Homo sapiens: one gene and its partners. The protein of the gene in region 1 purifies or fractionates together with the protein of each later gene. This does not show direct contact. Each region holds a gene or a part of one and is shown on either strand. Other genes may lie near its edges. The genes, in order: FAM234B, CKAP5, UBE3C, PDS5B, HERC5, PEX11B and SLC25A51.

Region 1 (3,500 bases):
CATGTAAGACAAGAGCTGTGGCCTCCTCTACACTGTCGAATGCATCTCCACTTCTGCACCTTTCCCAACACTACTCTTTACATGTCTGCCACCTCGGCCCCAACTAAATGGTGATATCCTTAAGGAGAAAGACTGTCTCACTAATCTCTGTACCTACAGCAACCGACTGTTTGCCTAATAAGAGACAGGAGCAAAATCAAGAATGCGAAAAAGTAGTTAAGAACAAAAAACCAGGAGGAAAAGATATGCTCGGAAACATGAGACTGATCCAGAACGTGTGCAGCGCGGGGAGCAAAATACCTGAATTCTAATCATCACTAATAAATGCTTCCTGAGAGCAGAAAAATATTTTCTTTTTTGAAAAAATAAACTTGAAGATTACATATAGCAATGATGAGTGGGTCTTGCTAGTCTAGAGTTCTCTGGAATCAATTGATTTGGTCCCAGTCAGGAAAAAATATTTGGGAAGACCTAATACCTAGATCCAAGTACAGCTGGTAAGGGATTAGAGTAGCCATGATCCTTAGTAAATAAGCCTTTATGTCACTTAATTACTACATCAGACTCAGAACTTTCTCCCTTGTCAGTTTCACATTCACTCTCAGGATAGGGACACGTGACTCATTTCATACAGTTCCCACTTTCAGCAACAACTAATATGGATAAGGAAACAAAACTTTTAGAGCTTCCTTCTACCTATTCCTCAGCACGACTAATTGAATATACAACCTAAAAACAAGTGACAAACAATGGCTGGCTGTTTCAGACCCTGTTGCCAGAAGATATATATGACAAACAGAGGTGGTATATGGTAACTTCCAGGCTTCTCAAAGGTGCTAGGATCCCTATCCTGTGTGGTTCTTCCTACTGGAGGACCCTACTCCATCCTACAATGCTCTGACTCGTCTTTTCCCAGATGGTGATGGATTACCCCTTCCTGCTAGACTATGACTTCTCGAGGCCAAAGCCAGGCTCCTCTTGTTCGGCAGTCTGTGTGTAACCATCAGAACTCTAGAGAAGGTGCAGAGTGGCTGCCGCACAGTTAGTATCAACACACAGTTGCTGAATGAAGGAACAAGTGAATAGACAAAAAACTCAATCCCTCTGTGTCCAGTAGCACAAAGCTTTGTGGGTTATGGGCACAGCAGCTTGGCATGAGGGTCAAGGACATGAACTCCAGAGCCAGACTCCTTGGATCCGAATCCCCAGCTCTATCATTTACCAGCAGTAGGACTGGGCAAGTTCTTTAACCTCACAACGTCTCACCTTCCTCATGTGCAAAAGGGGGATAATAATGGGTCTACTTCACAGGACTGTGTGGAAGGATAAATTCCTTCATACGTTATGTGCTGACAATGGTGTATTAACACATAGAAAGCACCATATGTTCGCTATATCCTTATTTGTACAGTCTGTGGCCAAATCAGCCTGGTCCATATTGTGTCCAAACCCATGGCCTTGCCATTATGAGTCTTGGTATGAAGCAAACTACGTAAGATACCAAATGACTAAAAACATCTCTAAATCTAAGTAGATGGGGAAGATTTTTACTTCAGAAGTCACGGGCAGGAAAAGTGTAATCAAGTTTTGATTGCACGGAAATCTACTCCTAGGCTGGAGATGCTCTCTACAGCAGATCTCCACCCAGATTGCTTCCACATCTCATGTGGGCCTCAGAAAGCCACTCCTACTAATGTAAGAGATGTGGTTTAGAATTCTCTAAAACACACCTAGACATGTATTCCAAGGCCTAGACGACTTAAAAGCAGTCACTAGGGCATCCTCAGCATCAAACTAGGTCCCTGCATCAGCTCACAGGCTGCAGTTTGACTCCACTGTAGTGGAGGCTGCAGGATCAACCAAAAGCCTTGTGTACTTAGGCTGAAATCAGAACGCATTTTTTCTTTTTCTACAGCTGACATGTGTAAAAGCTGGGATCCCAGAAACAGCACCCTAAATGAGGGTAAGTTGTGGACGGTTTCTTAAGGAGACTATTCACAAAGATGTGGCCAGCATGTAGAAACACCACAAGTGATAGTGCAGACCCTCAGAACTGTTAGGCTCCCCAACAAAGACACAAGGAGAGGACGCAATTACTGGAATCCAGAAAAGGAAAGTCCTATAGGAGGGCCACCTTGAAACGAGCTGTGACCCAGGGTCAAGGCTGTAGCAGCCATTCTGCAGTGACCCCGGCGGGGAGGGAGCCAGGGGAGTGAATACCTCCCCTCACACTCTTACTCCCCTCCCATTCCTGAGCTGTGCTCCCCATTGAAAGGAGACCAGCAGGCAAGGAAGCCTGTTGATACCATCCATACAGCTCAGCTTCCCCATGCAGAGAGCAGGATGGACAGCAGGTCTACAAGTGTAAACTGAAGGGGGAAAGGAAAACACCCGGCCAAGAGGTATTTGTGTAAAGATGTATAAGTCTATGAACAAAAGTTTTCTTCCAGGGATAGGAGGGTAGCATAAAGTCAATGTTCACTATAATCTAAGAGGCAATGGAAAACCAGGAGAAAACCCAAGGAACCCGAGGACTAACACTGTTCGTTGCAAAGTGTGTGGACAAGTCACTTCCTCTCTGCATCACAGTTTCTTCACTGGCCTGGTCACCACTAAAAATTCCTTCCAGCTCTAACTCCCTCCGATTTCTTAGACTGAGCTTTATTTATATGTGGAAGCTTTCTGATGAGGGTTTTCATGTATGCCAGAACCATGGTAACTTTCTGTTCACTGCAGATCCTTCTCTGCAGTACCACTTGGGACACAGCTCTGATGTTTTCTCCTAGCTGACAGTGCCCCTGTAGCAGCCTTGAAAAAAACACGTCTCTTACCTACTGCACTCCCGTTCCTTGACATCACAAAGGAGAGAAGCACATCACGCAGGCCATCTCCATTCACATCAGCCAATTCCAATGGAGACAGGTCCCCACCTGTTATACACATAAAAAACCAAAAAGGTCCTGAGCAAGTTACCACAAACCAGTTCTCTGTTGCCAGTAGCTCTATAAACACCAGGCAGACTCCAGTTCCTCGACTAGGTATAGTAGACACACCTCTCCCTACTCCCCCTGCTAAGTGCATGGAAAAGCCCTGGACACTGTACATAAAACAAACATAAGACAACTCTAAAAGGCAGAGAGAAGGAAGCAGACCAGCTAGGGACTGCAAGACCCAAGGAATGACAAGGTGATGAGTCCCCTGGGTTTTCTTTTGGCCTCATAATACCCAGATAGGGTGCTGGAAAAGCCAGCAACCCAGAAACACCACAGATACAGACAAAAAAAGCCCCAGAAAAGGCTGCCTTCCCTAGCCAAAAGCCCAGGAAAGGTGCAGTCCAGCAAGACAGGAAAGTTGTAGATAATAACTGCTCTACTCCAACCAAACAGATAAAATTATCAGCCCAGCTCCACCCACTCATATAGCAAAGGCTGAATGTGGAGCCTGGCTCCCACCCTCTCCTGGATGTAACAAGGTACCCCACCACCACCACCACCATCAGG
Region 2 (3,500 bases), on another chromosome or scaffold:
AATGATTAAGTGAGGCATTTCCTAAGTAGCAATGATTCTCCCATGCATTACTATGTTTTGAAAGAATAGGGAAATAGGGATAAGTAGGGAAGGTACCGTGATATAATCAGTAAAAAAGGGAGAGGAAATAAAAGTACAGAAACTGAGGTCAGCTGGGAACTTAAGCAGTCTCCCAGAGAGAGAACACCACATTACCTTGACGACAAGATAGGGGATGAAGGAAGATGCTTCATTCTCAGTAAGATGATATTCTTCTTCACTTAGCAAGGTGAAGAGCAATTTTAAATATTCTAGTGCTTTCATCAGGACGCTTGTATTGGTGTCAAAAAACCTCAGGGTAAGCCACTTTAAGATAAGATCCAGGCAACCAATAACTCCTTCTTTTTCACTCTCCAAGTGCTTAAAATAAAACAAAACAAAACTCCCACAAATAAGAATAATCAAAATCTTAATTCTACTAGGCAAGTGTCTTTTAAATTTTATTGGAGCCCAAAAAGAAAATGACAGATTTTTAAGCCTTCAATTAAGACCTAAAAAATATACACACACATTCATTTATTCTACCAAATAACAAGACAGCTCTAAAAATAGAGAACATAGTATATTCTACTTCCAAGTCATGCAAACTTCAGATTATTTCATAGGGCTCGGTATTTTTACATGTCTGAAATACATGTATATTTATCTATTGCAGACTTACATCAACCATAACAGCAAGGGCTTTGTTATGATGCTGAAAGTCTGAGTGAAACATCTCATCTTGTAACCATTTAGCCACACAGCTAGACATTTGAGTCTTTAGTTGCTCAATGTATTCATCCCGTGGGGTAGTAAAATTCCACTTTAGCACCTGGAAAAAACAAACGGTGAAAAGGGGCTACAGGGTGTTCAACTGAAATGAGGTAGAGAGCCTTATATAATGCAGCTGCAGGAACAATAAAATATTTAAAAATTCAACAATATTCATTTGTAATTAAATATGAATGCAAATTTCAAGGTGTCATACTTCTTGAAGCTTAACAACTCTGAAAATCTTCTAGGAATAAAAATTTTTGGAATTGTTTGTTTTTGAGACAGAGTCTCACCTGTTGCCTGGGCATGGCAGAGTGCAGTGGCATGATCATAGATCACTGTAGCATTAACCTCCCAGGCTCAAGTGATTCTTCTGCCTTAGCCCCCCAAGTAGCTGGGACTACAGACATGCACCACTATGCCCAGCTAATTAAAAAATTTTTTTCGTAGAGATGAAGTCTCAATATGTTGTCCAGGCTGGTTTTGAATTCCTGGGCTCAGGCAATTTGCCTGCCTTAGCCTCCCAAATTGTTGGGATGACAGGCATGAGCCACTGTGCCTGGCCTTGCAATTCTTACTAAAGAAAAAAAAAAAATTAATCCTACATATAACTATATAACATGGTGGACACTGCTGCCACATCTTTGATAGAGAGAAAATTTGAAATATCTATCAAAATTATGCATATCATCATTCTAGGAGTTTAATATAGATACACTCACATATGTGTACAAAGACCTACATTCAAAGATATTCACAGCAGCAGTGTTTGTAATAGTGAAAGACCAGAAACAACCTAAATGTCCAACATAGTGGGCGAAGGATAAAGAAAGGTACATACATACAATGCACCAATACAAACAGTGATACACACATATATACACAGATACGAATGATCTTTCAGATATTTCAAACATCATTAAAAGAAAATAGTGAGATACAGAACAAACAGTACGGCATGTCTGTATATGCCATCTGTATAAAAGGAGGGCTATATAAAAATATACATATGATAGTAGAGGTATAAAATATTTCTGGAGTAATACATTGAAAAAATGAGGACTAATATCCTCCCTGTGGAGGGATACTGGAACAGAGACATGCTTTTCTTACTATACTTTGCACTTTCTGTACTGCATATAATTTTTAAAAAAGATTATGTATTTTGAAAACAAATTTAAGTATCTAATGAAATCAAAGTAACATAAATGACTGAACTAGCCATTTATACAGTCACAAAGTCTGCCTTGTAAGGTCTTAAAAAGAAGGATTAATGAAGAAGCTTATACATCCAATTAATTAAAAAAAAAAATCAATGAAGATACCAAAAAAGCTACTAAATCATTTATTTCTATTTACAGGGAAAAATAGGCAATAACTCTATTCTATAGTTTCTTTTGTAGGAATTAATGCTCCCATAAACTAAATAATATAATTTATAAGCAAAAGAAACACTTAATTCCTAGATATTAAACAATAACATGAATTCAGACAGCAAAACTATTCTTGAATAACAATACAAGCAAAAATCTCCTGACGATTCTTAATCCTTCCTTACCTTCAATCCTTTTTCATCTTTCATCCTTTGCTCTTTTCCATTTGGAACAACAATAAAAATAGGCCCGGATTTGTCTTCATCCTCCTTTAAGCTGGTTTTGCTTGGCATCTTCTTCCCTTGTGCACTCTACAACCAAGGTTCAGGGAATACTGATTAGCTTGGCCACTTCTCCTTAAGAATATGATGCTGCTGCCCAGTAAAAGGGCACTGTAGAAAACAGAGATATCTTTCTACGTGATATTTCACATGAAAAAAACATGCATCACAGAATCTTGTATATGTTTTTGAACAGGTTCTCTAGAAATTTTTCTGAGAATATTCTTAAGTAACTGTTGGTTAGTTCTTGGACTGGCATGTTATGTAGTTGGAAAAACTGCTATTACTGATCATTAGTCTAGGTCACAAACTTTTTGTTTTTGTTTTCTTGAAATCTTCAACACTATTTATAGCTTTCCATATTAATGACATCTTTTTTTTTTTTTTTTTTTTTTTGAGACGGAGTCTCACTCTGTCGCCCAGGCTGGAGTGCAGTGGCGTGATCTCAGCTCACTGCAATCTCCACCTCCTAGGTTCAAGTGATTCTCCTGACTCAGCCTCCTCAGTAGGTGGGACCAAAGGCGCCCACCACCACCCCTGGCTAATTTTTGTATTTTTAGTAGAGACAGGGTTTCACCATGTTGTCCAGGCTGGTCTCGAGCTCCTGACCTCAAGTGATCCACCCACCTCAGCCATTAATGACATCTTGAATGGCATTTACACATTTCCAAACACTTAGTTTGAAAGCTTTTCTGTTTCTTTCCATTGATATTTAAATGTATCTCTTATCATAACAGTGTAACTGAAGACCTTTTGAACTTGCTTCTAGAGAAAGTTACAAGAAATGCTTTAAATATTTAAGTCACTAAAGTGGTTTTAAAAAATAATCCAAGATTTAAAATCTTCATATCAGATAGAAAGAAAATAGTAAACAATAGTACACATATTTAAGGTAAAATTCAAATTTCATTACTGGAATCATTATTATTATAAATGTAGCATGGCCACTATTTCTAGTTGGCCACAATTTCTTTCTAGTATAAACACTAATGTCATTCAGACCAAACAAATATGAGATCATTTATATGAAACTGCTTCGTAAGTTTAAAAAGAT
Region 3 (3,500 bases), on another chromosome or scaffold:
GTTCGTGCATGGCCACTTGTGCTGCGTGAGCGTCGTAGGTTTAGGGGAACAGAAGTAGAGGGATTTACATGAGCTTTTAAAATCCCAAATAGACTGGCCAGGTGCGGTGGCTCACACCTGTAATCCCAGCACTTTGGGAGGCCAAGGCGGGTGGATCCCCTGAGGCCAGGAGTTCAAGACGAACCTGACCAACATGATGAAACCCCGCCTCTACTAAATACAAAAAAAAAATCAGCCGGGCATGGTGGTGCATGCCTGTAGTCCCAGCTACTTGGGAGGCTGAGGCAGGAGAATGGCTTGAACCCGGAAGGTGGAGGTTGCAGTGAACCAAGATTGCACCATTGCACTCCAGCCTGGGCAACAAGAGCAAAACTCTGTCTGAAAAAAAAAAAAAAAAAAAAAAAAAAAAAAAAATCCCAAATAGACTAAAAGGGAAAATCCTACCCCAGTCAAGACCCCGCACAATCATAATTGAGTTATACCGTGGAAAACACTTTGAGCATCCATGAGACGGTCTTACTGTTTTTTTTATTTTTCTCAATGTTCTAACATATGTGAAATTTAATTGATTTTTCCATGATAAGTGTTTTTGAAGTTGTTATATGTTAGACATCCAGTTTGGAAAAATCATCTTAATATTTAGGCTTTCCGGTTAGCTTAGTATGCCTGGATTTGCCAGGGCTGCAGAATTAATGTAGACTTAAAGGAAGAGAATGTCTTTCAGTTGAAGTACTATAAATAGCAAAGGCAGGCAGGCATAATTTTAAAGTTATGAAACTCCTTAGTGCCAGATTATTGGAGAAGAATAACATCTGCTAAAGCTAATTAAAGTTTAATATGTTTAATAAATGTGATTGTTACAGACAAAAAATCATTAAAGTGCTGTAGAAAATTGTTAAGTTACCATCAGGCCACATAATAAATTAATGATTTTTCTCACTCTGAATTAATGCAAATTCCCGTTGTACTGTATTTAATTATGCACAAAATGGTGCCCTTGACTCAGATTTCAGTGAAGAACTTCATTTTTTTACTTTTAAGTCTCCAAGTAGGAAATTCAATTAGCGTTATGAAAGAAACACTAAAATGTGGCATTTAATTGCAAAATATATTTTAAGCTTTTCATTTATCCAGTGACTTTGCCAGCAGTCACTGACCCCTTCATTCAGAGATCCTTTTCTGTTTCAAAAATGCAATGCTTCCTTTTTAGTATATTCAAGCATTTGTGAAAATTATTGCCCTCATGTACTCAGAATGCTGAATAATAAGTGTAATAAATGTTATTTCTGGTTCTCCTTTGGTTCTCATTCTAACATTTTTATGAGAGATTTAAAGGAGCAAATAAACTATAATTAGAAAAAAAAAGACAATGGATTTTAGCACATATTATATGCCACATATATATTTTTTAATGAAGTTTACATTTAACAGTAAAGAGACCTACAAAGATCAGTAATAAGAATCATGTAAGTCTCTTCATAGGCTTTTTTTTTTTTTTTTTTTTTTTTTTTGAGATAGAGTTTCGCTCCTGTTGCCCAGGCTGGAGTACAATGGCCCATCTCAGCTCGCTGCAACCTCTGCCTCCTGGGTTCAAGTGATTCTCCTGCCGCAGCCTCCCGAGTAGGTGGGATTACAGGCACCTACCACCACCCCCAGCTAATTTTTTTGCATTTTTAGTAGAGGCAGGATTTCACCATGTTGGCCAGGCTGGTCTCGAACTCCTGACCTCCGGTGATCCACCCACCTCAGCCTCCCAAAGTGCTGGGATTACAGGCATGAGCCACCGCGCCCATCCTCTTCATAGCATTTTGTGGGCTGTGCTCTTACTAGTTTTACCCTTAACATAAATTATATGCTAAACTCAACATATAATTGAAACAAAATCCAACTGAAATGTGGGTGTGGCCAGTTGGGTGCCTGTTGTGCTTTGTGACAGCTTCAGTGCTTCCAAAGGTTCCTGCAGAATGGGACATTGCTCTAGTTTGATTCACATTTGACTACAATGGTTAGAAGGTAATTACCTTTTCTATTTTTTAAATTTTTTTGAACATAAACTCAAGATTGTATTGTCTTCATAATAAAACAAAAGATGACACTTAGAATTGGATGTCTTGGCCCTTCCTCCTCTTCTGTCCTCCCAGTTCAGAATGCTCACATCTCTTTATATCCAGCATCCTCTTACATCTGCACCTATGCTCAACGCACTCAAGCCTCAGCACAAGCTTCTTCGTAGTTCTAGCCTTTTCCCGGAAAATCAGCTTAGTCTGCCCACCGTAGCCGCTATGCTTCGTGTCCTAACACCACCTTCCCCGGGCACCTGTCCTAACGCCACCTTCCCAGGCACCTGTCGTAACGCCACCTTCCCCGGGCGCCTGTCCTAACGCCACCTTCCCGGGCATACAGAGAATCCGTGCCCTTTTGTGCCGTGTCGCTTTGTGGGCTTGCCACACTTACAGAAAGTCGAACGGGGGCCGGGTGTGGTGGCTCACGCACTTTGGGAGGCTGAGGCGGGCGGATCACCTGAGTTCAGGAGTTCTCGACCAGCCTGGCCAACATGGCGAAACCCCATCTCTACTAAAAATACAAAAATTAGCTAGGTGTGATGATGGGCACATATAGTCCCAGCTACTCGGGAGGTTGAGGCAAGAGAATTGCTTGAACCTGGGAGGCAGAGGTTGCAGTGAGCCGAGATTGTGCCATTGTACACCAGCCTTGTTGAGAGAGCAAGACGCCAACTCAAAAAAAAAAAAAAAAGTCTAGCAAGTATTAGGAACATTCACTTTGTGGGAGCGCTGTTGGCACCGAAAGCACTTTTTTTATATTGGATTTTTTTTTTTTTTTTTTACCTTTCAGTAAAAGTAATGTTTTCATTATAGAAAATTGGAAATTGTGATCAAGTATAAGAAACCTATATTTCCTCCCATTCTAACCATTATTTTTTTATGTTTCCTTCCTTTAATTAGTATGTGTTTTATCTACCTACATGAGTGTGTGTTAATGTAGATATGCATAATTTTTTCTGTTTTTGGTAGAGGTAGGGTCTTGCTCTGTTGCCCAGGCTGTCAGAAACTCCTGGCCTTGAGTGATCTCCCACACCAGCCTCCCAAAGCACTGGTACTACAGGTGTGAGCCAACATGCTCGGCCTGTTACACACACACACACCTGGTATTACAGGTGTGAGCCAACATGCTCAGCCTGTTACGTGCACACACACACACCTGGTATTACAGGTGTGAGCCAACATGTTCGGCCTGTTAAGCACAGAGACACACACCTGGTATTACAGGGGTGCGCCAACATGCTCGGCCTGTTACACACACACACACACACACCTGGTACTACAGGTGTAAGCCAACATGCTTGGCCTGTTACACACACACACACACACACACCTGGTATTACAGGTGTGAGCCAACATGCTCGGCCTGTTACACACACACACCTGGTACTACAGGTGTGAGTCAACATGCTCGGCCTGTTACACACACACACACACACC
Region 4 (3,500 bases), on another chromosome or scaffold:
TTATTCTTGTTCAAAACATATAAAATAAAGGAAGCACTACAAATCATTGATTCTGAAATGGTTGGATGTGTCTTTGGGAGTGGAAAATCCAGTTTAGAATCTCATCTCACATTCTGTTCTAAAACAATACACAATAATGTCTTAGTCAGCTCAAGCTGCCATTATAAAATACCAAATACCACAGACTGGGTAGCTTAAACAACAGAACTATATTTTCTTACAGTTCTGGAGGCTGGAAGTACAAGATCAAGGTGCCAGCAGATTTGGTTCCTGATGAGGGCTGTCTTCCTGGGTTACAGATGCCACCTTCTCCTGTGTCCTCACATGAGAGGTGTGGGGTGGGAGGAAGAAGAAAGGCACCCAAGCTCACTGATGTTTCCTCTTATAAGGACACTAATCTCATCATGAGGGTGCCACCTCATGACCTCATCTCAACGAAATACCTCCCAAAGGCCCCATCTCCAAATACTGTCACATTGGGATTAGAGCTTGAACATACAATTTTTTTCTTTGGTGGTGGGGGCCACAATTCAGTCCAAAGCAAGTAAGAAATAACACTTAAAGGACAGGTGCAATGACACCTGTAATCCCAGCACTTTGGGAGGCCGAGGCAGGCGGATCACCTGAGTTTAGGAGTTTGAAACCAGCCTGGCCAACACGGCAAAACCCCATCTCTGCTAAAAATACAAAAATTAGCCACGCATGGTGGCACATGCCTCTAGTCCCAGCTACTCGGGAGGCTGAGGCAAGAGAATCGCTTGAACCCGGGAGGCAGAGGTTGCAGTGAGCCAAGATTGACCCACTGCACTCCAGCCTGGGTGACAGAGCGAGACTCTGTCTCAAAAAAAAAAAAAAGAAAAAAAAAAAAAGCTGGGTGCAGTGGCTCATGCCTGTAATCCCAGCACTTTGGGAGGCCGAGGCGGGCGGATCACAAGGTCAGGAGATTGAGACCATCCTGGCTAACACGGTGAAACCCCGTCTCTACTAAAAAAATACAAAAAAAAAAAAAAAAAAAAAAATTAGCCAGGCGTGGTTGCAGACACCTGTAGTCCCAGCTACTCGGGAGAAGGCTGAGACAGGAGAATGGCGTGAACCTGGGAGGCGGAGCTTGCAGTGAGCAGAGATGGTGCCACTGCACTCCAGCCTGGGTGACAGAGTGAGACTCCATCTCAAAAATAATAAAAGATAATATTAATAATAAAGAAATAACACTTAAAAATAAGCATAGAGGCATACACAAAAGCATAGAGGAATATAGAGAAAACCCACTAACACCGCAGTAGTCAAAGTTGACAAAGGACACAATACGAAGGATGTAATTAGGCAGTTCACATACAGGAAGCTCAATTTAAAGTTAGAAAAAGTTACAGATAATTCGATAGTTTTTGTTGTTTTCAGTGATTTTTGAAAATATAAATTGCGCAGACTTTTGGAAATTAACTTTGTATTATAAGTGTTCATACATACAATTTATTCTTGGGTCTTTGGAGAATTTCTTCAGCCTTCACGCTGGTTCACATATAGATTCTCTGAATATAGACTAGGATTTTATTTTAAATGTGAAAGCCACTGGTTTTTTGTTGTTTCTGTTGTTAATCAGTTAGTTATACCTAGAAAGAAGCAGTATTTCTAATTCAGAAGTGTTTCCAAAATTTATAATAAATGATGAATATGTTTACCTTTTGTATCTTGCAACCTCCATTTGTAAAATAATAGTTCTTTTATGATGTTGTAAGCATGTCATATAGTTAATATTTTATGTCTTACGCACTATGTGGTAAAATTAGAATTACTTAAATTGACTATCCAAACAGATACTTTAGTATAGTTGTCATTTAGGACCAAGCACTGAATTTATAATGCTCTTTTTAATGAGATAGCTCTTCACTAAAATTTATAATTTAGTAAGATACTGATCTTGAGAGGTTTCCTTTTAAGACACTCTAGCTGAAAAGTAAGAGTGCAAATGTACCCTTTTATCCCAGATAAGTTTTTAAAATTAAAAACTATAATAAAAGCAAATAAATACAGTTCTGGTGTATTTAAGAGCTGTATATTTTAGGTACATATCTAGGACAACATTAGATAACAGATTTTTTTGTTTCATTCCTCAAAATATGTATACTCACAATTTCATAACCATAAATTGTGATTTTTTTTTTCCCCTAGTCTGAATTGGAGAAGCCTAGAGGCAGGAAAAAAACGCCCGTCACAGAACAGGAGGAGAAATTAGGTATGGATGACTTGACTAAGTTGGTACAGGAACAGAAACCTAAAGGCAGTCAGCGAAGTCGGAAAAGAGGCCATACGGCTTCAGAATCTGATGAACAGCAGTGGCCTGAGGAAAAGAGGCTCAAAGAAGATATATTAGAAAATGAAGATGAACAGAATAGTCCGCCAAAAAAGGGTAAAAGAGGCCGACCACCAAAACCTCTTGGTGGAGGTACACCAAAAGAAGAGCCAACAATGAAAACTTCTAAAAAAGGAAGCAAAAAAAAATCTGGACCTCCAGCACCAGAGGAGGAGGAAGAAGAAGAAAGACAAAGTGGAAATACGGAACAGAAGTCCAAAAGCAAACAGCACCGAGTGTCAAGGAGAGCACAGCAGAGGTAAGCATGTGTAACTCTAAACTGCATCTGTTTCGTTACTATATTATAAATCATAATTTGATGCTATCCACATTTGGGTCTTCCCCAAAGCAGAGCAGAATCTCCTGAATCTAGTGCAATTGAATCCACACAGTCCACACCACAGAAAGGACGAGGAAGACCATCAAAAACGCCATCACCATCACAACCAAAAAAAAATGTGTAAGTTGTAAATATTACATTTCAAACCAATTTCAAATTATTTTGCAAAAGTTCCTAAATTTGTAAACATACATATTGCTGTATTTAAATTCCATATATTTAGCCCCATTACACTAGGTAAGATAAAATTTTTATAAACTTACCTTAGTGATTGATATCTCAATAAACTATCTTGTACATTTTTACAGGTGCAGGCAAATCTTCATAAATGAATACCAAATAGTATATTATTTCCTATACAGACTTTATGATATCTAAAGAAATCATAAGGTATTTTTAAATAATCACCACACATTGACCAGGTTGCCTTGTCATTCCACACTACAATTTTTTTTTTAAATGTTTCTCATTAGCACCTTTTCCTTTAAAAAAAGGAAAATAGGTCTTATGCTTCTGCTTTTATTCTTTGAACTTGTAGTAGGAAAGTAACAGGTACCATTTTTTAAAAATTATATCCATAGAAATTAACACATGTTGGTCTCAAGTGTTTGATATCTTGATTTTGTTTGTTTTCTAACCCAGTTCATTTATCTACATCAACATGTATATAGTTTTAGATGTTCACACAAACACATTTATAAGAGAGGTACAGTAAGAATCTGTACCTCAAATTTTAGTGTCACCAGAGTATCACTGCTGTAATTTGCAGATCTGACAGTGTTTTTTCTCCTTAGTTATGTGAGTGGAAAT
Region 5 (3,500 bases), on another chromosome or scaffold:
TTTCCCTATATTAGTAATAAGACACTGGTTAAACCAAATCACATGGTATACATACATACAGCCTCTTTCTTTACAGCATGAGACATGATAAATACCACATCTTATAACTATCCTTCCAACCTCTCCATTTGTCTCCTATCTGTATGCATATTACCTTGGCTTGGCTTCTAAAAGTCCATTCTGTTTGGTAAATCTCAAAATTTCAGTGGCAAACATGGGAAATAAAAAAGTTTATACATACTCAGAGAAGCCTCAAATAAAGAGGAAAGGCTTGATTTATGGTCAGAACTTTCTTGAACAAACAAAATACTCCCACCCCACCAACTATGCAAGTCCTATTTATTTCTATTCCACTGAAGTAGAAATAAATTACCAGAAATTAAATGGGGGAAGGAGTATGCTCAGTTTCATCTTAGAAGTAGTTGTACAGTTCTTAATTATTTATGCTCTGCAAATTATGATGCAACTATTTTGTGCAACTACTTTGTACAATCATTTTCCAGAATTAGAAAGCCATACCTAAAAATATTTCTAAAAGATGATGTTTGTAAGAATAGGTAGGAGTTCTGTAAACCTATAGGAGTTCTATGGTTTAGAGAAGAATGGTACAAATTGTTCAGCTAAGAATAACAGGTACACAAACTAATGGTTCCAGGATCAAATGGGACTGGGAAACACTATAGACTCTATTTTCTGGCCAGAGAGTCACAATATACATAAACAGAGGCCTGGAGAAGCCCTACAGTAAAGAAAGCTGTCCTCATGGCGCTTACATGCTAGTTGTGATGGGTTAGTTTTATATGTCAACTTGGCTAGGCCATGGTACCAAGATATTTGGTCAAATATTATTCTGGATGTTTCTATGAAAGTATTTTTTTAGATGAGATTAACATTTAAAATGGTAAACTGAGTAAAGCACTTGAACAAGTGAATAAAAAGAAAGGACCTTCCATAATGTGAGTGAGCCTCATCCAGTTGAAGGCCTTAAGAGAAAAGGCTGAGGTCACCCAAAGAAGAGGAAATTCTGCTTTTAGATTGCCTTCAGACTTGAGCTGCAACATCAACTCCTCCCCAAGTCTCCAGCCTGCTGGCCTGCCCTACAGATTTTGGACTTGCCAGCCCCTACAATCTCATAAGCCAATTCCTTAAAATAATCTCTCTCTCTCCCCTCCATAGATACATAGATGGACAGACAGACATGATAGAGATAAAGATAGAGACAGAAATACACACATATCCTATGAGTTTGTTTCTCTGGAAAACCCTGACTACAAAATCTCATATTGCTGTGCAGAACCAGTTTGGGAAATGATACTTGAGAGTGATATATAAGCAGAGAGTCAGACTGTGGGGTGTACCTTTTTGTGCTCTGCCACCGTTTAGTCTCCACATCAGCAATCCATCTCTTTACAGTCCCTTCATTCAGAGTAGGAATTGTCCTCTTCAGATTAACATATGAATTCTGTAAACAAACAGGAAAGTAAAATACAATAATTTAGACACATCAGAGATAGGCACCCAACTTTTAGGTACACTCTAGAGAGTAAAACTGACTTTTAAATATGTGTAATACAGCCCTGGGACAATCACAAAGTGATACTCAACAAATAAGTAATCAATCATTTGCCTGGTTGCCACTTTCTTGTCCAAGGGGGCTTAGACTGAAAGTAAATTTCTTTGAGGACTCAACACTCAGCACTTTATACAAATACAATCAAATTAAACTGAACATCAGACAGCCTTGAAGGGAAGGGAAGATCCTGAAAGAGCTGTGTGCAGAAGTGTGAGGAACTCGATTTCACTTGGTGAAGTAGGGCAGGGAAGTTATGGACTTTTTATTTGCAAGCCCATGAACCTTGGTGTCTTTCTTAGTACTGGCCTGCAAAGTCATTTTTAGAATCTGTCACTCTGTTGTTTGCAAGGATACTGACCAAACATCATTGGCAAGTAGCCCCCAAAAGGTAAGTATAGCCTATGGAAATCACACTGATTAGACATTCACCAGAGAAAAATCTGCTGATTTTTGTGGGAAAATACTGATGTAGTTTAGACAATAAAGGATCAGTAATGTCCAGCTATCCCCCAAAAAGTCAGCCTGGTAAACTGATGATTTTGGAATTCACCAAACTGGGATACTAGAACCCTTAGTTTTGCTTAAAATACCAGGTTATAGAACACCTGGAGATCTATTTTTACCTCTTTCTTTATCCAGAGCAAAATGCTTTGATTCCCTCCAGCAATCATTATTAACTCCTTTTCTGAGGTATGGCTTTCTGAAAGGATGCACAAAGAGTAAGAGTTTTAGAAAGTCATTTGGCACAAACATGCATGTTCAATTTAAATAACTTCAGATTCTTCTTAAACGTAGTCATCTTTTCTTCTTAATAGACAAAACTTAGTACATTTTCTGCCAATTAAGCAGCTGAAATACATATCCTTTGGAGTAAAGTCTAGTTGGCAAACATAGGTAATTCACAAGGTGGACATGTGACATCAGTTTAATATACATAATACAAATATTTATATATAAAATGCAAATATTTGATTAGCTAAATGTTATCAGTTTAATTCAACTCCCATTACTAAAAACCATGTTTTCAAGATTTAAGCAATGACTGCTGGCTATAAAGAATATAAGTACTTTAAGCCCATGTAACTGTTATAAGGAATCAAAGATAATACATGCTGCTTAAGGAAATAACTCTGTTCGTTTTCCTACAAGAAATGAGTAGATTTTGTTACTTGAGGTCACCACTAAGCTTTCAGAAACAAGTAACAGAAATGCTCCAAGGTGCTTCTACAATGGAGTGTTTCAGAGCTCAGACTCTGAGGTCATAAAGGGCACGGGTTCAACTCCAGACAAACCACTTACTGGCCATGATTAAGTGGCTAACCCTTTTCTCTCCAAGTCTCTTTATCCTCCAGTAAAAGAGGAGTGACAGAATACACCTCCCAGGAACTGTTACAAGGATTGGTGAGATAACACAAGTAAGTGCTGAGCACAGTTCAGTGCCAGGTATACGTTGATTGCTCATTATTCTGAGGGTTTTATATGACTGTGGATCAACTTAACCAGGGCAACCAGCCAATTACAAGAATTAGTAAACAACTAATTACAAGAATTAGTAAGTCTCTTGCAAACTGGAATGAGAGCTGCATATGCCTCTGAATCCATTGTCTATTTTATCATTTAAATTCACATTAATCCTAATCTGAAGGAGTAATATAGAATAATTATTTTGCCTCAGTAAATTAGACTGACTCTTGAATTGTTTACCAGTAAAAAATGAAACCAGTATTTAGAGAAACTCCCTTCATAGTCATATGTTGCTTTCTTTGCCACATTACCTAGTTAGAAAAATCATTTTCTCTAAAAAGATACTATGCCAAACCCTATGTTCCTATAGAATTTACCAAGTTTGAGTTCTTCACTTGATGATACTTTCACTGGAAGCGGCATCAGCTGGTCACGTGTTCCACCATTTCCCAGTTGTCCATCT
Region 6 (2,434 bases), on another chromosome or scaffold:
GGCCGATAGATTCACTTCCTAACCTTATTTATCTCAACCTGGAATATGGAAAATGAAAGAGCTGATAGCAGTGGTATCATTTCCCTACCCACCCAGGGGAGTCTCAACTTGTGAAGACACAGCTCCAAATCCTTACCAGCCCCACTCCACTTGGTTCTGTCCTTGGCTCTTAGCCTATGCTGTCATATGGCATTCTGCTTCTTAGAGGGATTATATCTGAACTGGTATGAGATGTGCTTTGTGGAGCCAGGACAATAACTTTAGTATTAGACCACTCCTCTGCCACCCCAACTCCTCAGCTAGGTTATAAACTTCTTAAAGTTGGGAGTGTGGAGCTTCTTAGATTTTTGGATGCCCACTAAGTATGTTGCTTTACATACTGTAGGTGCTCAAGAAAAATAATGTGGGTGATGTTAGTGGCTAATCCCGAGAAAAACCCAAACCACAGTGACAGGAATAGGGGCCTCAAATTACCAAAAAATGAGGGACCAGACCAAATGTCGATGAGCAAACTGAACTTTAATTTGCTTACCTGAAAGGCTTGCTCTTCATTATTGGCATAGGCCACAGCTATTTACACAGAATCATTGTACAGGATTTACAGCAAGATGCTACACATAGCATCATTCTGGATAAGCGACAAAGGAGTAAGAACAGACTGGGGAATAAAGCTCTGAAATCAAAGTGTAAGCAGAAATCTGAAGGTAGGTGTACAAGGAAGGATAAGGGCCAAATGATGAGCGAGGTTGGTGAGGTAGACATAAGGGAGGAAGAGGAAACATCCAACAACTTGTGGTGCAGAGATATAAGGGAAGAGTCCACTGGCACATAGTCTTAAAAATTATGTTTGGAGTTTGAAGGAGGAAAAATCTGCCATAAGCCACCTCTGTGAGAAAAAAGAAGGCAGTTAGAACCTTACAGGCCAAACCTTATACCTCCCCTATCAAAAAGTAATTCTGCTGATTAAATCCCTGGATAGGAGAATGAGAAGGTTGAAAAAAGAAAGAGAGAGATGCATAGACACAGAACCTTAAACAGAGTTAAGAGACACAAAGTAAATATATTCAAGAGAGACACAAAGAAAGAGGAAAAGAACAGAAGCTCAGGCACATCTAGAAATTAGAGACATCCTATTAACTTCACGAGTCATCTTTCCTTACCTCATCTTCCCCAAAGCTCTTCCTCCACCCCTAAATCTCTGAATTTCTAACTTTAACCAAAGAGTAGAATTCGAATGAGGCTGGCACATGGGGGACGATCTAAGATTCCATCTCACCAATTCAGGTCCCCTCCTTATCCTGTACCGGAAGGTCAGGGCTTGAGTCGTAGCCAGGGATAGATTAGGGTGAGAATAGACAGGATGGAGGACACGAGGCCACAAAGCCCCACAATCCCAGGGCCACAGCGCCAGAGGCCTAGTTTGTCCAGAGGAATGAAGAGATCACAGGCATTTCTGACCACGTCTAGCAGAAGTGGGGGATGACCTCTAAGGACTCGAGCCAGGAGCAGGACTTGCAGCCGAAGTTTCAGAGCCAGTTGGGGCAGACCTCCTCCTGGAGTCCCTGGTCCCCCAAGTCCCCCAGTTTCACTTCCTCCTGGGACTCCTCCTCCAGAACCTTTCAGTCGCCGGCTACAAGCAGAAGACTCTTGCTCCATCAGTAGGCGAATCTCATAAGCATCACGGCTCAAATTCATGATGAGGGAAAACAAATAGTACCTGATACACAGAGCAAAAGGGTCAGTAAGGGCATGTATACCTACTTAACATATCCAACATCACATTTTAACATTTTCTTTTCCTGTAGCAAAGAGATTACACATTAGATCAGAAGTAAAGTGAATGCTATTACCCCTATTAGAAATGTCCTCCATCGAGGACACTATGCTAAGCAAAATAAGCCAGACACAGAAAGACAAATACTGCATAATCTCACTTATAGGTGGAAGCTAAAATAAGGCCGGGCGTGGTGGCTCATGCCTGTAATCCCAGCACTTTGGGAGGCCAAGGCAGGTGGATCACCTGAGGTCAGGAGTTTAAGACCAGCCTGGCCAACATGGTGAAACCCCGTCCCTACTAAAAATACAAAAATTGGCCAGTTGTGGTGGCCAGCACCTGTAATCCCAGCTACTTGGGAGGCTGAGGCATGAGAATTGCTTGAACCCAGGAAGCAGAGGTTGCAGTGAGCCGAGATCTCACCACTGCACTCCGGCCTGGGCAACAAAGCAAGACTCTGTCTCAAAAAAAAAAAAAAAAGGCTAACTCATAGGGGCACAGAATAGAATGGGGGTTGCCAGGGGTTGGGGAGTGAGGGAAATGGGAAGATACTGGTCAAAGCGTATAAGTTTCAGTTATGCAAGATGAGTAAGTTCTGGAGATCTAATGTACTACATTGTGACTATAGTTAACAATACTGTATTGTATATTTGAAATCTG
Region 7 (3,500 bases), on another chromosome or scaffold:
TGGGAGGCCAAGGCTGGCAGATGATGTGAGCCCAAGGAGTTTGAGACCAGCCTGGGCAACGTAGAGAAACCCTGTCTCTACAAAACATACAAAAATTAGCTGGGCTTGGTGGTGCGGGCCTGTGGTCCCAGGTACTCAGATGGCTGAGGTGGAAGGATTGCTTGAGCCCAGGAGGTCAAGGCTGCAGTAAGTGCAGTGAACTGCGAGGTAGCCACTGCATTCAGCCCAGGTGACAGAGCAAAACTCTGTCTCAAAAAAACAAAACAAAACTGAGAAATAGTAAGATTGGTAATTCACAAGCTGCTGCTTTGCTAGGAGTGGTAAGGTTATAAATTAGATAAACTGATAACCCTGCTCAAGAAAAAAGGGAACATAAGTACACAGGTTAGAAGTAATTTTTTAAAACAGCAAGTGTTGGATGGGTGCAGTGGCTTGTAAATCCCAGCACTTTGGGAGGCCAAGGCAGGAGTTCAAGACCAGCCTGGGCAACATAGCAAGGCCCCCTCTCTGCTAAAAAAATGTTTTTTAAAAGTTAGCCAAGCATGGTGGCATGCGCCTGTGGTCCTAGCTACTCAGGAGACTGAGGCCCCAGGGGTCCAGGCTGCAGTGAGCCATGATCGTACCACCGTACTCCAGTCTGGGTGACAGAACAAGACCCTGTCATTTTTTTTTTTTTTTCTGGATAGAGTCTTGCTGTGTCGCCCAGGCTGGAGTGCAGTGCTGTGATCTTGGTTTACTGCAACCTCTGCCTCCCGGGTTCAAGCAATTCTCCTGCCTCAGCCTCCCAGGTAGCTGGGACTACAGGTGCGTGCCACGATGCCTGGCTAAATTTTGGATTTTTCGTAGAGATGGGGTTTCACCGTGTTAGCCAGGATGGTCTCGATTTCCTGACCTCATTCATGATTCGCCTGCCTTGGCCTCCCAAAGTGATGGGATTACAGGCGTGAGCCACCACACCTGGCCAAGATCCTGTCTTTAAAAATAAAAATAGGCTGGGAGCAGTGGCTCATGCCTGTCATCCCAACACTTTGGGAGGCCAGGGTGGGAGGAACACTTGAGCCCAGGAGTTTGAGACCACCGTTGACAACATAGTGAGACCCTGTCTCTACAAAAAAAAAAAAAAAAAAAAAAAAAAAAAAGGCTATATAAATTAAACCAGAATTTTTTTTTTTTTAAGGAAATCCAGTTATCAAAATTGACTCAAGAAGAGAGAACCTAACAGAACAATAACAATGGAAGAAATTGGGAACATTATCACAAAGCTATCATCCTGCCAAACTCCAGGCTCAGATGTCACAGGTGAATGCAATTAAACTTCAAGGAACACATCATTTTGATAAGATTTAAATTGTTCTACAGTATGATGGGGGTGGGGGGGCGGGGAATCACATATTCTTTTTACAAAGCCAGTGGAACATTGACACTGGCACTTGATGTGAAGATAGTATTAAAACTGAAAACTTATCTGAGTGCCAAGGCTTATGCCCATAATCCCAACACTTTGGGAGGCTGAGGCAGGAGGATTGCTTGAGCCAAGGAGCTTCAGACCAGCCTGGGCAACACAGAGTGACCCTGTCTCTACAAAAAAGTGAAAAATTAGCCAGGCATGGTGGCGCACGTGTGTGGTCCCAGCTGGGAGAATTGCTTAAGTCTAGGAGCTTGAGGCTGCAGTGAGCCATGATTGTACCACTGCACTCCAGCCTGGGTGACAGAGTGAGACCCTGTCTTGTAAAAGAAGAAAAAAAAAATGACAACATGATCTGTTATGAACAGTAATATGAAATTTTAAAATATTAGTAAATGGAAGTTAGCAGTATGATGAAAGAATATTTCACCACGGCCAAGTAGCATTTATCCACATATTGCAAGAGTGAGTAATCACCAAGAAATATGCTAACATAATACACCAAATGAATAAGTCAGAAAAGATAGAAAAGAATAATAAAATAGCTTGCCCTTGTTGAGTTCCTACTGTACACTAGACTGCTGTCCTGGGCACTTTACATGTTGTTAGCTCAGTTAATTGAGCTAGTCTATGAGGTAGTTAATAGCCACGTTTTATAAAGAGAATAAGCTATAGAGTGACTTGTCAAAGGTCACACAGTACATGTGTGGTGGAGCTAGGATTTAAGTAGGTAATTAGTAGGTTCCAGAGGCTGTACTCTTAAATATTACACTGGCTGTCTCCAGTGTTTGTATGATCATCTCAGGAGCTTTCTAAAAGCATTTGACCAAAGTTTAAGATAGACTCTTGAGTTATTGGCGGTGGGAAGGTGTGGAGGTGATTGAACTTCAGTACAACAATAATAAATGTATATTTCCTTCCCATGTTTGAAAATTCTCTCAGTTTGACTTATCAGTTGACTAGAAAAATGAAATTCATTTTTATTTTATTTATTTATTTATTTTTGAGACAGAGTCTTGCTGTGTCGCCCAGGCTGCAGTGCAGTGGTACAATCTTGGCTCACTGCAACCTTGCCTCCTGGGTTCCGGCAATTCTCCTGCCTCAGCCTCCCAAGTAGCTGAGATGACAGGTGCATGCCACCATGCCCGGCTAATTTTTTTTTTTTTTGAGATGGAGTTTCACTCTTGTTGCCCAGGCTGGAGTGCAATGGCATAATCTCAACTCACTGCAACCTCCGCCTCCGAGGTTCAAGCAATTCTCCTGCCTCAGCCTCCCGAATAGCTAGGATTACAGGCATGCGCCACCACGCCTGGCTAATTTTGTATTTTTAGTAGAGACAGGATTTCTCCATGTTGGTCAGGCTGGTCTTGAACTCCTGACCTCAGGTGATCCACCCGTCTCAGCCTCCCAAAGTGCTGGGATTACAGGCGTGAGCCACCGCACCCGGCCACCCCCGGCTAATTTTTGTATTTTTAGTACAGATAGGGTTTTGCCATGTTGGCCAGGTTGGTCTTGAACTTCTGACCTCAAGTGATCTGCCTGCTTCGGCCTCCCAGAGTGCTGGGATTACAGGTGTAAACTACTGCTCCTGGCCTGGAATCCATTTTTAATGGGAAGCACAATTTCATAGTTAATAGTTGGGGGCAGGAGCTTAAGTTATAATTGCAGCTCCACTAATTCTTAGAATGAATATAGATTGAAGTCTTGGGGTTTTTGGCATGATTTGTGAGATGAAATTATGTGATAGCAGAAGGAAGGCCTCCTGCACTTCATGTTTACAGTAGAGTCCTACAGATGGGCAGGGGTAGATGATAAATAGGGAGGAGGGATACTTGAGTGGAATAAATCATATATGACTCAGCTGATCAGTGAACGTTTCTGTGTCTTGATGATTTGTTTCCCTGTGTAAACTTGAAAACTGCTAGGACCTGGATTATGAACACTCAGATGACAAGAACTTCCTGTTTAAAACCGAAAGCCAACTTAATGATAATCCCTAGGAGAGTTCCCACAGGTGTCAAGAAAAATATAAGAACTATAATTATATATATATGTAATTATATATAGGGATTATAATTATAATTTATTATAATCC

The links.
Region 2: the proteins of FAM234B (region 1) and CKAP5 purify together in Homo sapiens (affinity purification with mass spectrometry; 2 studies listed by BioGRID and IntAct, with this or other methods). This does not show direct contact.
Region 3: the proteins of FAM234B (region 1) and UBE3C purify together in Homo sapiens (affinity purification with mass spectrometry; 2 studies listed by BioGRID and IntAct, with this or other methods). This does not show direct contact.
Region 4: the proteins of FAM234B (region 1) and PDS5B purify together in Homo sapiens (affinity purification with mass spectrometry; 2 studies listed by BioGRID and IntAct, with this or other methods). This does not show direct contact.
Region 5: the proteins of FAM234B (region 1) and HERC5 purify together in Homo sapiens (affinity purification with mass spectrometry; 2 studies listed by BioGRID and IntAct, with this or other methods). This does not show direct contact.
Region 6: the proteins of FAM234B (region 1) and PEX11B purify together in Homo sapiens (affinity purification with mass spectrometry; 2 studies listed by BioGRID and IntAct, with this or other methods). This does not show direct contact.
Region 7: the proteins of FAM234B (region 1) and SLC25A51 purify together in Homo sapiens (affinity purification with mass spectrometry; 2 studies listed by BioGRID and IntAct, with this or other methods). This does not show direct contact.

What each region holds. Positions count from the first base shown.
Region 1 is NC_000012.12:13,057,881-13,061,380, reverse strand, and holds part of FAM234B (protein FAM234B), read right to left. Parts: intron 2,931-3,500; coding exon 2,832-2,930; intron 1-2,831.
Region 2 is NC_000011.10:46,762,781-46,766,280, forward strand, and holds part of CKAP5 (cytoskeleton-associated protein 5), read right to left. Parts: intron 2,477-3,500; coding exon 2,351-2,476; intron 851-2,350; coding exon 701-850; intron 400-700; coding exon 196-399; intron 1-195. UniProt on the Homo sapiens protein: Binds to the plus end of microtubules and regulates microtubule dynamics and microtubule organization. Acts as a processive microtubule polymerase. Promotes cytoplasmic microtubule nucleation and elongation. Plays a major role in organizing spindle poles.
Region 3 is NC_000007.14:157,260,926-157,264,425, forward strand, and holds part of UBE3C (ubiquitin-protein ligase E3C), read left to right. Parts: intron 1-3,500. UniProt on the Homo sapiens protein: E3 ubiquitin-protein ligase that specifically catalyzes 'Lys-29'- and 'Lys-48'-linked polyubiquitin chains.
Region 4 is NC_000013.11:32,767,952-32,771,451, forward strand, and holds part of PDS5B (sister chromatid cohesion protein PDS5 homolog B), read left to right. Parts: intron 1-2,169; coding exon 2,170-2,609; intron 2,610-2,699; coding exon of another isoform or gene 2,700-2,702; coding exon 2,703-2,810; intron 2,811-3,500. UniProt on the Homo sapiens protein: Regulator of sister chromatid cohesion in mitosis which may stabilize cohesin complex association with chromatin. May couple sister chromatid cohesion during mitosis to DNA replication.
Region 5 is NC_000004.12:88,467,119-88,470,618, reverse strand, and holds part of HERC5 (E3 ISG15--protein ligase HERC5), read right to left. Parts: coding exon 3,415-3,500; intron 2,989-3,414; exon of another isoform or gene 2,913-2,988; intron 2,274-2,912; coding exon 2,197-2,273; intron 1,463-2,196; coding exon 1,359-1,462; intron 6-1,358; coding exon 1-5.
Region 6 is NC_000001.11:145,910,850-145,913,283, forward strand, and holds the end of PEX11B (peroxisomal membrane protein 11B), read right to left. Parts: intron 1,718-2,434; coding exon 1,312-1,717; 3' UTR 501-1,311; downstream 1-500. UniProt on the Homo sapiens protein: Involved in peroxisomal proliferation. May regulate peroxisome division by recruiting the dynamin-related GTPase DNM1L to the peroxisomal membrane. Promotes membrane protrusion and elongation on the peroxisomal surface.
Region 7 is NC_000009.12:37,897,628-37,901,127, reverse strand, and holds part of SLC25A51 (mitochondrial nicotinamide adenine dinucleotide transporter SLC25A51), read left to right. Parts: intron 1-1,177; 5' UTR 1,178-1,299; intron 1,300-3,500. UniProt on the Homo sapiens protein: Mitochondrial membrane carrier protein that mediates the import of NAD(+) into mitochondria. Mitochondrial NAD(+) is required for glycolysis and mitochondrial respiration.